Regions from separate parts of the Homo sapiens genome. Here region 2 is linked to region 1. Evidence: fine-mapped expression QTL. Tissue or cell type: whole blood. Region 1 holds a variant in brackets; the other region holds the start of a gene. All regions are shown on one strand. Distances are from middle to middle.

Region 1 (2,683 bases):
AAGAAGAGCATGGGGGTTACTGCCCCCATGATTCAATTACTCCCACCAGGTCCCTCACACAACACCTGGGGATTATGGGAACTACAATTCAAGATGAGATTTGGGTGGGGACGCAGTCAAACCATCTCAGTTGCCCAGGCTGGTCTCAAGTTCCTGGCCTCAAACGATCCTCTCGCCTCGACTTCCCAAAGTGCTGGGATTATAGGTATGAGCCACCGTCCCCAACTTAGGAATTCATTTTAAATGCCTTCCAGTATTATGCTGCTGCTAGAAATGCAATTCTAAAAAGTACACCCAAAACACCAAAAATACTTACGCAATGTAACATTAACAAGACAAGAATTCAAAATAGACACACCATAAATATAACAATGTAAAAAATATATGCAGGCGGGAGGTAACAAGTAAAAACAAACTGTACTGGAGTAGGGTGACTTTAAAAATAAAATCTCTTATTTCCTACATTAATTATTTGCTACCAATGTTTGTTCTTTTTTTTTTTTTTTTTTGCCTGGGATTAATCATCAGTAGGTGGAAGTTTGTAGAGAAACATTTGATATCTACAAAATGAACCACAAATGTGGCTAAACGTGCCAGCTACATGACTTTTTTTTTTTTTTCTTTTTTTCCTGAGACAAAGTCTTGTTCTCTTATCCAGGCTGGAATGCAATGGCGCGATCTCGGCTCACTGCAACCTCCGCCTTCCAGGTTCAAGCAATTCTCCTGGCTCAGTCCTGAGTAGCTGGGACTACAGGCAAGTGTCACCACTCCTGGCTAAATTTTATTTTTTGTATTTTTAGTAGAAATAGGGTTTTGGCATGTTGGCCAAGCTAATCTCGAACTCCTGACCTTGAGTGATCTACCCACCTTGGCCTCCCAAAGTGCTGGGGTTACAGGTGTGAGCCACTGGGCCTGGCCTACATGACTGCTTTTCAAGGGAATTGTTTTAACATGTTAAGAGGCTAAGCACAAAAGTAGCATTCAAGTGTTGGTTAGACACTTTTGAATATTATTTGATTTAAACATTTCTTTCAAATGGCATGCAAGAAATGGCTTAGGGGTTCTCAGGACTGAGGAATCAGGATGGGAACTTGATAACAGGGACCTTAGGTTGAAAGCTATTGTTCTAAAACAAGGTGCTTTCCCGGCATGGGAAGCAAATGCTGGGTTTTACAAGACCACAAGTGAGGCAGTGCCTTTGACTTGGCATTATCTACTGTGGCAACAAGCAGCAAGGTCATGATAGGGTT[A/C]CTGGTGGAATAGCCTTGCTTTTTGGAACAAAAATTCCCACAAATTACCCACATATCAAAGTTATCCATTAGCTAACAAACATGAACGTTTTCTAGCAAATAAAACACGCATATCACAAAGTCCTCTCTTTAAAAGAAAACATAAAGAAGAGAAAGAGAAAAGAAGCTGATGACGGTGAAGCCTGATTTAGCAGATACGTTTATTCAACACAGTGCATGATTCAAAGCATCGGATATTCCACAGCCAACAAGGTTTCCTATTCCCTATTACAAAATACCGGATACCCTGAATATAGCTCATTCAAGGTCCTCGTTCCTTTTTCCCTATATCTAGAATTAAACAGGTTTCCCCGTTTAGCGCACATTTCACGTTCGCTGAAGGCTTTGGGGAGAGGGGGAAACAGAGCTTATGACTGCCCCTCTGAACCAAAGGCACTTAATGTTAAAAGATAAAGCACAGTAGAGTCACCCCACAGACATTCCTATGTGTTCAACGGCTGAACTTCAGCATACCATCACCGGCCCCATGTGGGATTCATCATAACAACGTAAAAGACACTGATTTCCTTGGAAAAACAAAGTGCAGTACGAATATAAAGGAGTCACCACACCCCTCTTCCGAAAATAATACATAAGAGAACTCTTACTTTACATGATTAGTATCACTCAAGGTTCACACATGGAAAAAATAGCTAAAAAATAATCTATAATAAATTCTCACTATGAAGTCACAATAGAATCTGATACCCTTTTTAGAACTGGTGAGTTGGAGAGACACCCAGAGGTCATGCTGTCCATCCCTTCATTTGATAGGGGAGGGCACTTGAGGCCCAGGAAGGTCAAGCGTCGGACCTGGGGTCTAACCCCTGTGGCAGAGCCTGCGTAGGACGCGGGCCTCCTGAAGCCTAGCTCAGGGTTCCCTCCACTCCCCTTCCTCTTTAAAGACTCTCAAAAGTAAAATATGGTGATGATCTCCAAAGATGCACCACACCATAAAGCACATGCACTGACCCAGGTCAGCAATTTGGTCTCACAAGGCGGTTCCTTTGGCCATTGGGCAGGTATGTAACCCACCTCAGGGTGGGAATTCTTTGCATGGGATCGTTCAAAGTTCTGAGAAAAGCCCAATGTAGGTCAGACACGACTGCTCCTTGGACTGGGGAAGACTTTCCTTGGTTGTCAGTCCATAGTGGGCAGGCGGTCGGCTGCACAGCGGAATCCCAGATTCGAAGCAGAGCTATCAGGTGTGTTCTGGCTCCGAGCAGCACAGCGATACCTGTAACAATAAGACTGTGTAGAGAGAAAGAGCAAGGTAAGTGCTACTGGGACTCTCAGCTGAAGGCTCTAACCCATCAGATGCATATTGCACCGGCTGTAGACAGTGCTTCCCCACAACCCTGCCTGTATGGATACTTAACATGTATGCTTTAAAA
Region 2 (2,683 bases), 110 kb after region 1:
CCTGAGAGACTAAATCATGGTCCTGACCCCATCACCCTCACAGTCCAGTTGGGGAGAGACATCAGCAGAAAAACATCTTTAATAATTGTTATGTCAGAATAAACACATAACTACTGAGGCAGGATACGGAAATATTGAAGGGGAGAGAAAGAGGAGATCAGGTAAAACCTACTGTGGATGTTACCTCTCACCTAAGTCCTAAATATTGGTCAGGATTAACCCAAAGGAAAGAAAAATGGAATGGGAAAAGGATAGTGTCTGCTAAGTAAACAAGAAGGAGCACTAGTTTAGGAGTCAGAAGACCTGACCTTTAGACCCATAAGTTGTTTCGACAACACATCAATATGCAAAATACCGGGCAGACAGATTGAAGTAACAGTTATTTCTTTCTTTCTTTTTTTTTTTCGAGACGGAGTCTCGCCCTGTCGCCCAGGCTGGAGTGCAGTGGCAAGATCTCGGCTCACTGCAACCTCCGCCTCCCGGGTTCCAGCAATTCTCCTGCCTCAGCCTCCCGAGTAGCTGGGATTACAGGCGCCCGCCACCACGCCCGGCTAATTTTTGTATTTTTAGTAGAGACGGGGTTTCGCCATGTTGGCCAGGCTGGTCTCGAACTCCTGACCTCGTGATCCGCGCGCTTCGGCCTCCCAAAGTGCTGGGATTACAGGCATGTGAGCCACCGCGCCCGGCCAGTAAGTTATTTATATATCCCGGCACCTAACACATACAGGCGCTAAGCAAGACAGATAAATAATAGCAATAAAACAACTACAGTTTGCTTAGCCCTTCCTAAGTGCTAAAGTGCTAAGAATAGCAGGATAAACAATTCAAGCCCTTGTCCTCAAGCAGAGTGTACTCGAGGAGACTACAGATAAGTATACAACAACCCTGGTGAAGATACTGAGACCCAGGATCCTAATTTATTCCGTTAATAAGAGAGGAAATGGTGATTTAAACCATAATTTGATTGCCTTAAAATTATGAGATCCTCATTAAGAGAACAGGTTGGAGGGAGAAAGAAATAGGGGGTAAAGAAGTAACAATAACCCTCAAACCAAACTCCCTAATGGTCAATTAAATGGAGTCTTCCGGTGAGGCACGGAGAAGGAACTCCTCATACGGGAACAGCAGGTGCTCGATTTGGGGTGTGGTTATAACCTTTACTTCCCTTCCTACTAGTGCCTTGCTTTGCCTACTCCAACCCCGTCCAGGAACCGAGCAGCCCCCACCCGCCTCGGAGGAATCGATGGAGCACCTTTGAGTGCGCGAGTTGCCGCTCTCCGGGTACGGGGCCCGGAGCGTTAGCCTCCCGCGAGTATCGGTGAGCGGCTGCCGAACTGCCATGGGCGCCAGGCCGCTGGGGCGTGCCGCAGCCGCAAGAACCCGCAAGGGACCCCGCGCCCGCACCGGTCCCGGCCTCCTGGCTCCCTGCCGCTCCACACAGCAGCGAGAGCAGCAGCAGCAAGAGGACGAGACCCAGCTCAGGGCAACGTCCACACACCAGCCCTAGTGCGGGCGCAGCCATGTTGTCCCGCGGGCCATGTGACCCGGTTGGTCACGTGGCTGAGCCCTCCTTAAAGGGGCAGAATTTTGAGCTGACTTACGAAGTGACCAGGAGAGTTGCTCTTCACCTTTCTTCAGGTACTTCTTTGGCGCTGCTGCTTGCCTGTGCTAACGTCAAAACGCAGCAAAACACAAAACTCCACAAAACTCAAGGCCTTCCACAGACCGTGCACCCCTTTATGATTTCTTGGTTGAAAAATAACAGTCAAATTTGCTGGGCATTTGGTAAGTGCCAGAGTACTATGCTAAGCACTTCACTTTTTAAAATCTCATTTAATCCTCACAAAGACCCAGTAATGGCGCGCTTGTAGTCCCAGCTAGTCGGGAGGCCAAGGCAGGAGAATCGTTTGAACCTGGGAGGCGGAGGTTTCAGTGAGCCCAGATCCCGCCACTGCACTCCAGCCTCGGCGACAGAGCAAGACTCCGTCTCAAAAAAAAAAGAGAAATACAATACGGAATCAGAATCCGTGGGGACTGGACACAGCAATCCAGGGTTTCACAAGCTCTCCAGATGATTCTAATCCACACTTAAGTTTAAGAACCACTGTTCTACAGTTCCGTAATCGAACAAAATGCAAAACCAAAACAAAAAGAAGATGAAGGAGAAACTTACAGATTAAAAAACAACATAGCAGGCCGGGCGCGGTGGCTCAAGCCTGTAATCCCAGCACTTTGGGAGGCCGAGGCGGGTGGATCACGAGGTCAGGAGATCGAGACCATCCTGGCTAACACGGTGAAACCCCATCTCTACTAAAAAATACAAAAAATTAGCCCGGCGTGGTGGCACGCGCCTGTAGTCCCAGCTACTCGGGAGGCTGAGGCAGGAGAATGGCATGAATCCGGGAGGTGGAGCTTGCAGTGAGCCGAGATGGCGCCACCGCACTCCAGCCTGGGGACAGAGCAAGACTCCATCTGAAAAAAAAAAAAAAAAAAAAAACATAGCAGCCAGCTGCAATATGTGAACCTTATCTAAATACTAATTCAAACCTACTGAGTTCAAAATTTTTGAGATAATCAGGGAAATTTAACCACTAAGTCAAATTATAATATTTGATAAAATTAAGGAATTGCTGTAAATTTTGTTTTTAGGCTTTTAGGAGTAATAATGGTATTTGTGGCTATA

The links. PIP is the estimated chance that this variant, and not a neighbour inherited with it, causes the effect.
Region 2: it holds the start of SUMF1, and the variant in region 1 is fine-mapped to the expression of SUMF1 in whole blood (INTERVAL, PIP 0.95).

Annotation. Positions count from the first base shown.
Region 1 is chr3:4,359,715-4,362,397 of GRCh38, forward strand. SUMF1 (sulfatase modifying factor 1) reads right to left here. Exons shown (of 9, transcript NM_182760.4): 9 at 1,432-2,540. The coding sequence ends at 2,430. Among named protein-coding and RNA genes, the nearest start is that of SETMAR, 58 kb to the left of the region's middle. The variant A/C (reference allele first, on the strand shown) is at 1,251.
Region 2 is chr3:4,465,724-4,468,406 of GRCh38, forward strand. SUMF1 (sulfatase modifying factor 1) reads right to left here and starts at 1,546. Exons shown (of 9, transcript NM_182760.4): 1 at 1,253-1,546. The coding sequence starts at 1,522. It overlaps LOC124909340 (a long non-coding RNA gene), which reads left to right and starts at 1,101. Exons shown (of 2, transcript XR_007095789.1): 1 at 1,101-1,785. RefSeq lists a silencer at 1,243-1,422 and an enhancer at 1,593-1,772.